3 linked regions of the Homo sapiens genome follow. The protein of the gene in region 2 interacts with the protein of the main gene of each other region in a pairwise test. Each region holds a gene or a part of one and is shown on either strand. Other genes may lie near its edges. The genes, in order: ESRRG, NR0B1 and RORA.

Evidence for each region.
Region 1: the proteins of NR0B1 (region 2) and ESRRG interact in binary tests that used the Homo sapiens proteins (3 or more experiments, as listed by UniProt).
Region 3: the proteins of NR0B1 (region 2) and RORA interact in a two-hybrid assay, tested with the Homo sapiens proteins (one large-scale study listed by BioGRID and IntAct).

Annotation. Positions count from the first base shown.
Region 1 is NC_000001.11:216,713,347-216,717,006, forward strand, and holds part of ESRRG (estrogen-related receptor gamma), read right to left. Parts: intron 1,904-3,660; exon of another isoform or gene 1,728-1,903; intron 1,289-1,727; exon of another isoform or gene 1,170-1,288; intron 1-1,169. UniProt on the Homo sapiens protein: Orphan receptor that acts as a transcription activator in the absence of bound ligand. Binds specifically to an estrogen response element and activates reporter genes controlled by estrogen response elements.
Region 2 is NC_000023.11:30,303,681-30,306,525, reverse strand, and holds the end of NR0B1 (nuclear receptor subfamily 0 group B member 1), read left to right. Parts: intron 1-1,702; coding exon 1,703-1,947; 3' UTR 1,948-2,320; downstream 2,321-2,845. UniProt on the Homo sapiens protein: Nuclear receptor that lacks a DNA-binding domain and acts as a corepressor that inhibits the transcriptional activity of other nuclear receptors through heterodimeric interactions.
Region 3 is NC_000015.10:60,501,791-60,505,450, reverse strand, and holds part of RORA (nuclear receptor ROR-alpha), read left to right. Parts: intron 1-1,783; coding exon 1,784-1,916; intron 1,917-2,583; coding exon 2,584-2,691; intron 2,692-3,660. UniProt on the Homo sapiens protein: Nuclear receptor that binds DNA as a monomer to ROR response elements (RORE) containing a single core motif half-site 5'-AGGTCA-3' preceded by a short A-T-rich sequence.

The sequences.
Region 1 (3,660 bases), on a different chromosome or scaffold from region 2:
ATCTCATTCCTTTCTTGAAAAAAAAAAAAAAAAGATTTCTCCTGTAGGAGTTTGCTCGTTCAGCACAACTCACAGATGCCCTAACTTATTTAACCAGAGCACACTAGCATTTTACAAGTCTGATCAGCTAAGTTTCAAATACCTGTAACCCATCTGCTGAAAAAAGAGGGAGACTGGATTGACATAGGGCATAACTGCATCTTCTAACATCAGAAATGATGTTTAATAGAATTGGAGTGGAGAAAGGAGTACTTAATTTCTCCAGAGAATGTACAGCAGAGACGCACCTGCTTATCAAAGAAGCTGCTGTTGATGCTGAAGTTTCTTTTATCAACATATTCACCTGTAATTTCATCAAGGTAATAAATCCCTCTATTCATAACAGCACACTCAAAAGCACCCCTCCTATTTAACTTGAATGAAAAAAGGCACAGAGTGTCTAAAACATTTACTTTTGCTAATGTAACAGTGTTGGCATTTTACTTCATTCCTGATAAGCTGGTGCCAGTAGAAGTGATTATTCTTTTCTTATTCAAAGCCTATCAGCATTTCGAAAAGCTCTCTCAGTCTTATCAGGTGTATGAACAGCACAGTTAACTGAAAACAGTTTGTACTGCTCCTCTCTCTTTCTGCCAAGCTATCTGATAAACCCCCAACTAACTAACTGTATTTACACACAATCAAACATAAGTTGTATCTTCTATGCACTATAGCCAGATTCCAGTTTACCATAGGTTTTTCTGCTGTAACATTAACTTAGCAAAAATGTCAGCCTCCAGTATCCCAAACTGACAACAATCAAGAAAACACTATAAAAGCACTCAACTAGAATGCACTACAAACAGAAACAAAAAGAAAAACAAATATAAAAAGTTGAAGGCAATCTCTTTGGAATTCAGAGGGAAAATCAGGTGTACTCTGTATGCAAATATGGGTGAATATCATGCACTTACCTTTTACCAAAGTAAATGACCCTTTAATAAAACAGATGAATAGAAACAGAAATTGTAAAGGAAAATACTGCCGGGATAGAGGAAGGGAAGGTGTTTAGGAAAGTGTTTTAGAACTTAGCAGGCATTCCCCCCACACTTCAGGTTATCTCAATGTGGCAGCAGAGAAGTTCTATAATGTAAGCAAAGGAAGACAATAGACAATATCACCGAACTTACCCCAGAAACTGAAGACAAGATAGAAAGCAAGGCTGTCACATATGGTGACCACATTCTCAGGATAGATTTTCCAATCATTAAAACCCTCATAAATGCTCTAGACATTAAAGTTTTGTTCACTATAAGAAAATAAAGAAATAAAAAAATACAATTTGAGTTTTTAACCTCTTATTATTTGTCTTATTCTTCAGACTTAACCAACTGAATAGTTCAATATAAAGACATGAAAAAAGAATCATCATTCACATTAATGTAAATAGATGATCTGTTCTCCATTTCTATCTATTAAAAAATGCTTAAACTAGGTCATGGCTCATACGAATTGAAAGACACACCTAATCATTTACGGGTAGTACTTTGGAGCATGAAAGATAACAATGACATTTCTAGAGCATAAGAGAAATCGGAAATCTACTTGAATGACTGAGTAACAACAAATTCCTGACCCTAGGAAAGAATCTCTGCCTGAGCTTCTGTGCATAAATTGTCCATTTGTTCCTCACCTCCCTTTGCTGAATGACTACGAGAGAACAGAAAAAGGCGGCCACATGCTCCCACCTGAGCCCAACTCCTGATGCTGTCTAGACTCCAAGAACAGAATGAGCCTTCCTTTAGATGTGTAGAGCAATAAGATGAATTAGCCAAGTGTGTAGTTCAGTACAATTCAGCTGATAGTTGCTTTTCCATCTGTGACACTATGATCCCATGACTGATGAGGCAGGTCTCATTCAAGTCTATGGATAAAAGGGATGTTTCCGTCATTTCATAGGACCCAGCACCAACTGTATACAGTCACTTTCTCATAGGAAAAAGACATGGTTCTCACCAACCATATACATCTTTCCCTTTCTTTGGTCATGAACAGTTGGTTACGGGTATGATATTCCTCCTCAAAATATCTGATCTGTTTTAATGGATTAATGGCTGAAAAGAAATTAAAAATTATCAGAATATTCTTTTATTTATGTGAAAATGAATACAATTTAACATGCCCATCTTACATTTTTGGAGAAGTTAATGTACTAGGATAATTTGGAATTATGGAGGGCAAAGGGCAATCAATTGAACAACCTCACAGTTTATTTTTTTTCTCTTTAATGAGTACCTCAGTCTATAATTTTTTATATGACCTGTTATTTTGGTTAATTTTGGATGCAGTTCTGGATATATGACTAATATGCATTTACTATTATTTTCAAAGCAACATAAGTTCTTATAAATATTGTTACATAATAACTGCCTTGAAAAGTATCCTTTTAAGATATTTTAACTCACATTGTGAGTATGAAAAAAATACATATTTCTTTAATGAATCCTTTGTTCAAATTCTCAAAAGCCATGAAAAATGAGTAAAATCTTTCTAGAGTAGATGAAAAAGGAATTATCATTTACAAAGGTATTGTTGTGATCATGGAAAAAAAGAATTTAGTGTGCTTCTGCCTATTTTCTGTACATAAGTTCTTAATTTATATTTTAATTTTCTTTTGTTTTTGCATATTGAATATGCCATACAAAAAGAAAGCGTAAGATTTTTTTGTTTTCCAGAAAACATATGCAAAGTGCAACAAAAAGAGGTGTCCCCTGATAAAGGTGGATTGTCCGTGTTCCTTTGGATTCTCCACTTCTTCAAGTTTTTATTTACTTCATAAATAAGAGCCACTGAGGTTCACCACTTCAGAGACTTTTGTCTTTCTAAACCTATTTTACTTTCAAGGTAGTAGAAAAATTTGAATGAACCTAATTTATTTTTTTCTTGGAAACTTATTGCTATCTATGCTATCTGTATTCCTACAGTTCATTTTTAAAGATAAGTAAGCAAGCAAGCTGTTTTTTCATTACATTTATACTAGCCATCAATCTGATATGAGAATTTATTGGTAGCTTCCCTTTTATTTAGTACCATCTTAGCCAACTGTTTGCAGAAAAGGTGTATAATGAAGCAAAGTTAAATTGACATGTCTGTGATATGCCTGACAGCCCTCAGTATGCCCAATATTAATTTGTTTTCTTTGGCTAGGTAAGTCCTGCCAAAGCATATTACACATAATGTGTACTTCCAACCAAAATGATGAAAAGTATATATGAAATTTTGTTTCACTCAAAGAAAAATGAGAAGTCACAGAGGAATATATATGACAAAGACTGTTTTTTATAATTAAAATATAAATGTACTTTTCAGTTCTTCTTTTAGAATTTAATCTAATCTGAAGTAGGCTCCCTGTAAGTTTTGGCAATTTAATAGGTATTTAAAATTTTTTAAATGCCAAAACCAAGTGTTTTCCTTTTCTATATTGTTTGAAAGAATTCCATATAGCCATAGGTTGTATTTCTAATTGTTAGTGTTGCGTGGTTTATAGCTACATTCAAATGCACATATAGATCTTTGCCAGTATACTGAAATGGACTTTAACTGACCAGAAGGAAGCCAATTTCTTTAAAACTGTACCTTTTCTTTCATTGTTTTGCCTCAGTAAGTTACCTTCCAAGTATA
Region 2 (2,845 bases):
ACCAGCTAAGCTGAGTGTGTTTGAAACACAAATGTACCTATATTTGGGAGAAAGGTAATGCCTATTAAGAGTGTGGCCTCTCTTTGCTGTTTATCCTTTGTATGTCCCATATATAAATTTAAATACATTATATATATAGGTTCAAACTTAAGGAGATATAAAACTGTGGAGTCCATTTGCATTTTCTCTTCCCTGACCTTATTTTGAAGGCCAGTTTGTGTGTCTCTGTGTGGGGGGGAACCACTTGGGTGGGGAGAAGGTGGAGGGGTATATTGTGAACACAGAGAAAAGTAATGTGGCATACACAAGATGAAGTTTTCACAAGCCATGAATCTAGACCTAGAGAAGCTTCAGATTTCTGGTGGAGTTTCATGCAAGCCTCTTCCTACTTTCATCGATGGAATTCAAACACAACAAAATTGGGTCTTAAGCCTGGATCTCAAGCTGTAGATAGAAGGGGATGATAATGTGTGGACTAGAGTAATCAGAACTGGAATATGGATTAAAATGGTTGCTTTATTTTTGTTCTTATTTATGAGATTTGATATTCGCCCATAATAGGAGTGCCTCTCGCTTATTACCATTATTATTTTTTTAAAGAACACTGGTTCTGCTGCTCTGTGATGATTGGCATGGTGCTTTTAAAATACTTTTCTGTTGAATTTTTTAGGAAAAGGGAAGGAAAATGATTGCAATCATCATTAACATCATTTAAACCAAGTGGTCAACTGCTAATTACTTGAATACAAGTTAAAGAACTTTGCAACGATATTATCATCATGGAAGATCAAAGGACCTTCAAAAGCAGCCTCCTCTTATTACTTTCCTTATAAAAACTTACATCCACTTAAACTTTCCTGCATTTATTTCTTTCACTTTTACTTCGGTATCACACTATACTGCAAAAGGTCATGTGTTTTCTATTACAAAAGTTATTCTTGAATCATGGTACAATTCGTGATGTTTTCATGTTTACTTTTTAAACTTTTAATGACTATAAGAATTTTCAAAAACTTCTTACTTTAATATTTTTGAAAAGAGCCTTTTTGAACACTCATTAGAATCATTCTTTTATTTTTTTCAAAATCTTCCCCAATACAGAAATCATGGTGCAATGAGCTAAGTGGCCAGTGTTAGCTTTCAAATTATTCGGGCCTCTAGACTAATATTGGCCTGCAGGCAAATAGGTAAAATGAAACTGTGCGTCAAAGTTTGTGGCTGTGAAGTTTACCACCATTGGCTGAACGATCAGTGTAATGATGGAAAGTTCAAAGAAGAATGGTAAAAACATTTGTCTCATGGCAACACTTCTTGTTTATCATGGCTTGTTTCTCATAGGTAAAGTGCCCACCTCTTGAAATATCATGAACTTCTTCATATTTGCATAGAAAGTGAACTGGAGTGATGATTCATTAAACCGTATTCTACTGTCATATTAAATTGTGTGCGTTTGTTGGCTCATGGCCAGTGTATTTGCAAACGTGTGCATAGAAACATAGTAAATATTAAGTAAGATCACATGATGTTTCATTCTTGGACACGTTGCTTCTGAAAACGTAGACTGGTTTGGCCTTTTACCCTTTTAACCGGGAAGCTTTGGGTCTTGTTTAATTGGGATGAAACAGAAATGGCTATTTTTAAAAAGCTAGCAAAGGACTCTGTGGTGAGCTGTTTTATAACAAAGAGATTTTTCTCCCTCCAGACGTGCCGGGCCTGCAGTGCGTGAAGTACATTCAGGGACTCCAGTGGGGAACTCAGCAAATACTCAGTGAACACACCAGGATGACGCACCAAGGGCCCCATGACAGATTCATCGAACTTAATAGTACCCTTTTCCTGCTGAGATTCATCAATGCCAATGTCATTGCTGAACTGTTCTTCAGGCCCATCATCGGCACAGTCAGCATGGATGATATGATGCTGGAAATGCTCTGTACAAAGATATAAAGTCATGTGGGCCACACAAGTGCAGTAGTGCAGTTCACCATGAGGGAAGAATAAAGAGCTGTGGGCAAAAGAGTGTAAAATATTTTAAAATAAACTTTCTTAATATTTTTACATGCAGAGTATTTTTGTATTCAATTAAAGAAATAATTTTATTCCAGACAGTCACAAATTTCTCTGTTCCATAGTTAAAGAAGACATTTGCCAACAGGTAGCATAGCTCTGTACATCTTTTAAAAAAAAAATAGCAGGGTACTAGTATAATAAGCTATTTTCACAAGTGTAGCAATTTCATGGAACCTGCTCAAATCAAATTTGTACATATTGTTATAATAAATTTTAAGGTCTTAACTATTAACTTGATTGAAAAAAGCTTCAGCAGGGTTTAAGTAAGGCCTCAAAAACTATTAAAACCTAGCCAACATAAGCAAAAAGTATCTTTGGAAGTAACAACATGACATTGAATGTAATTATGTGCCAGTATCAGTGGGAGGTCACTTTGCTCTATCTTCATTTCCACTTCCCTCAGCTGTATGGAAGACTGCGTTTGCATCCAACTGGAGTCAAGAAGCAATCTGTAATTATAAAGACATGCAGAAGTGAAAGAGGAGATTTTCTGTTTTATTGGGGGATCTTTTTGGTACACAGTTATGGATTTAAAGATCCACAAGGAACATACATTCTATAATGAGGGGTTATAGTTCCAGAAAGCTCAACATCATTATAAAACCACTAATTACACTTCATCTTTTAGATACATTACGTTTGTAACTGGTATATTGAACAACATGGCATGAAATCATAAAGCAACTTTATTGTTATCTCCTGCTGCCCCTTTAATTATAATCCATAGAACTAATTTTTCTTTGTGTCCAGATAAAATCAAGGCTACTATATGTCT
Region 3 (3,660 bases), on a different chromosome or scaffold from region 2:
TATAGGAAAGTTGGTCAAGAGTTCACACAGACTAAAGAATGAATGTCATCAGGTTTCTGTTTAAATATCTTTTTTCTGAAGCTACTAATGTACTTGAGGCTTTGCCATTTAACTCAGATGCAAAATTTCAGCAATAGCAAATAATTTCTATTGTGCTTTCTAGGTATACACATACCTCCTTCCATTTGTCAACAGGAGAATAGATTAAGCAGCTTCCAAAAGTCTAAATGAATTGAGAATTGTCTCAATATCACAATCAAGATTTTAAGGTCTGGAAGTTTATGTAAAATAATCTCAGCCTAATGTTTCTGGAAGTTGACAAGGAAGCCTCATGTTTCTGGAAGTTGTATTAGGGAGTATATACAAAAAAAATTTAGAAGCTGTGATCATAACTCCAGTCTGAACCTAGCAATATGAGGCTGACAAATAGTACCCTACTTGCCTTTTTCTGTAAAACACCCAGATCAACAAGATTATCTAAGTGAATCCATTTTACATTTGAGGAAAACTAACATCCACTGGCATGTCTGGAGAGTGAAACATCAAGACCAGACCTTGACTCCTGGCTCCTAATTCAGTGTTTCTTCCACCCCATCATATCGGTGGGAACAGTCTGAAACTAAGATTGGGGAAACAAGTTAGCAACGAAAAAGATCCAGACCATTCTGTAACTGAAATGGAGAGTGCGAATATAAAAGGAATTTAACAGGACATGTTGGGGAATAGCAACACATTGCTTTGTTTGCCTTTGAGGTAGCAGGTAATGCCAGCAGCCAAAGCTACAAAGGAGAAGCAAGAAAACAGTAAGAAGCAACAAAGTATATGAAATAGGATTTTAGAGTCAGAGATGCTTGGATTTGAATCCTGGCTCCCATATCCACCAGTTTTTTGTTTTGTTTTGTTTTGAGACAGTCTCACTCTGTCGCCAAGCTGACACTTGCACTGGCGCAATCTCGGCTCACTGCAACCTCCGCCTCCCGGGTTCAAGTAATTCTTCTGCCTCAGCTTCCCAAGTAGCTGGGAGTACCGGTGTGTACCACCACGCCTGGCTAATTTTTGTATTTTTGGTAGGAACAGGGTTTCACCATGTTAGCCAGGCTGGTCTTGAACTCCAGACCTCAAGTGATCCCCCTGCCTCGGCCTCCCAAAGTGCTGGGTTTACAGGCGTGAACCACCGTGCCCAGCCAGAAAAAATATTCTTATGAAAGTGAATTAAAACAAGGATGTCATAAAGCGCCTAGCTCATAGTAGGTGCACAATAAATTCAGTTGATTCTCCTTTTCTCCCTTCCCCCAAAGTAAAGTGGTGTTAAATTTCCCAAGGCAAAATAATTACTTAAAAGAAGATCCAGACCGGGCACGGTGGCTCATCCCTGTAATCCCAGCACTTTGGGAGGCCCAGGCAGACAACACTTGAGGTCCGGAGTTCAAGACCAGCCTGGCCAACATGGTGAAACTCTGTCTCTATTAAACATACAGAAATTAGCTGGGTGTGGTGGCAGGTGCCTCTAATCCCAGCTACTCAGGAGGCTGAGGCAGGACAATCACTTGAACCCAGGAGGCAGAGGTTGCAGTGAGCTGAGATTGTTCCACTGCACTCCAGCCTGGGTGACAGAGCGAGACTCCATCTCAAAAATAAAATAAAATAAAATAAGATCCCACTTTGCCACTCTTCGTGGCCCAGGGCTAAAGCAGTGGCATGCTTTGCTTTCATAACTCTGCAGCTTCTGCTACAAAAGCTAACATCTTCCTGGAGGATGTTAATGTGTTTCCCTCTTTAACAGCAGCGGGAGGTGATGTGGCAATTGTGTGCCATCAAAATTACAGAAGCTATACAGTATGTGGTGGAGTTTGCCAAACGCATTGATGGATTTATGGAACTGTGTCAAAATGATCAAATTGTGCTTCTAAAAGCAGGTATGTGCTTTGCAAGTGAATTTTGAGATCTCTTCCTAACCTGCTTTCACCCGCTTATTAAAGAAATGCTTGGTAAGGAAGGTGTCGGGAACAGTTTTTCTCCAATGATAATAGCTCAGGTTTTTCTTAGCAGAAATGGAGTTCTTTTCAAAGGTTTTAAGATATATTCAGGAAACATTCCCCCCACTTTTCTTCTCTTCTGGGTGAAAAGATTAATTTGAAGGTCACCTACATTCCCAAATTTTCCCATCACGTGTGTTTTGTTTCTACACTCCAAGTCCTCCGAGTTTATGATGTTAGGAAGAAGAAAGTAGAACTCAGAAAGATATACTTGTTTTTGATTCTTGGTTTTAGTACATATGAATAAATGCTTTCCTAGCAACTCTGAGACTCTGCATTGCGAGGTAGAAGAGTGCTAAGGAAGTAATTTATAAATCAACCCTCACTTCAGTTAAACAGGGCTTAGCTTCAGCACAACAGTCTTTTAATTACATAGAAAACTCTGCCCTTTTGGATAGACAGCTGATGTGACTGAGAACCCGCTAGCTAAACTGCACACGACACCCACCATGCTGTTGCAGAAGGAGTCTCTACATGAGCAGCTTAGAAACAAACTCACTAACATCAGATGACCCAAATGACCCAAACCATTTCTGCCTCTGCTTAGGTTCTCTAGAGGTGGTGTTTATCAGAATGTGCCGTGCCTTTGACTCTCAGAACAACACCGTGTACTTTGATGGGAAGTATGCCAGCCCCGACGTCTTCAAATCCTTAGGTAAGGGGATATCAAGGTGCCTTTTCTTCAAATCAGGGCTATAGGAAAAGATGCGGGTTGAGTGAAAGCTCTGCTTGGACAAAATGAAAACTTTATTTAGAAACAAAAATTAAGGGGTTTTATACCTATTTTACTTTCTAGTTAGTCACTGTAGAAAAGTCATATAGCTCAAAAGTTTTTTGTCTACATTACTTGTAAAGATGTAGAGTTTCATTTTATCTAGTTGGTAATCAAAGGGATTTATATGACGTGTCCTTCCAGTTCCCTTCCAGATTTTAAGAAACCAGATTTGCTGGTGATATATTATTCGGATGACCTTTAGGATGTGAGCTGATACATAAAATTAAGCAAAGGGCAAAAGCTTTGCCCTTCCATCCCCCTCAAACAGTAACCATTAATGAGACTGAAATGCAGATATCAAAGAAATAAAAGTTACAGTTAAGTGAAACCATGATATATAATTTATAATAAATAATTTGGGGCCAGGTGCGGTGACTCATGCCTGTAATAGCAGCACTTTGGGAGGCCAAGGCAGGCGGATCACCTGAGGTCAGGAGTTTGAGACCAGTCTGGCCAACATGGCAAAGCCCATCTCTACTAAAAATACAAAAATTAGCTGGGCATGGTGGCACACGCCTGTAGTCCCAGCTACTCAGGAGGCTGAGGCAGGAGAATCACTTGAAACCGGGAGGTGGAGGTTTAACTGAGCTGAGATCATGCCACTGCACCCCAGCCTGGGTGACAGATTGAGACTCTGTCTCAGAATAATTAATAATAAATTTTGGATTTCTATAATTTAAATAAAATGAACATAGTTATTAAGAAGAATGGATAAGTATCTAAAATGAGTGATTTTTTTAAAAGTTATATGACAGATGATATATATAATGAACTGTCATGTAGCACATTGTCATTTAAATATATACATTTATATGTAAAATATGCAAATCTGAAGGAATAGACACCAAA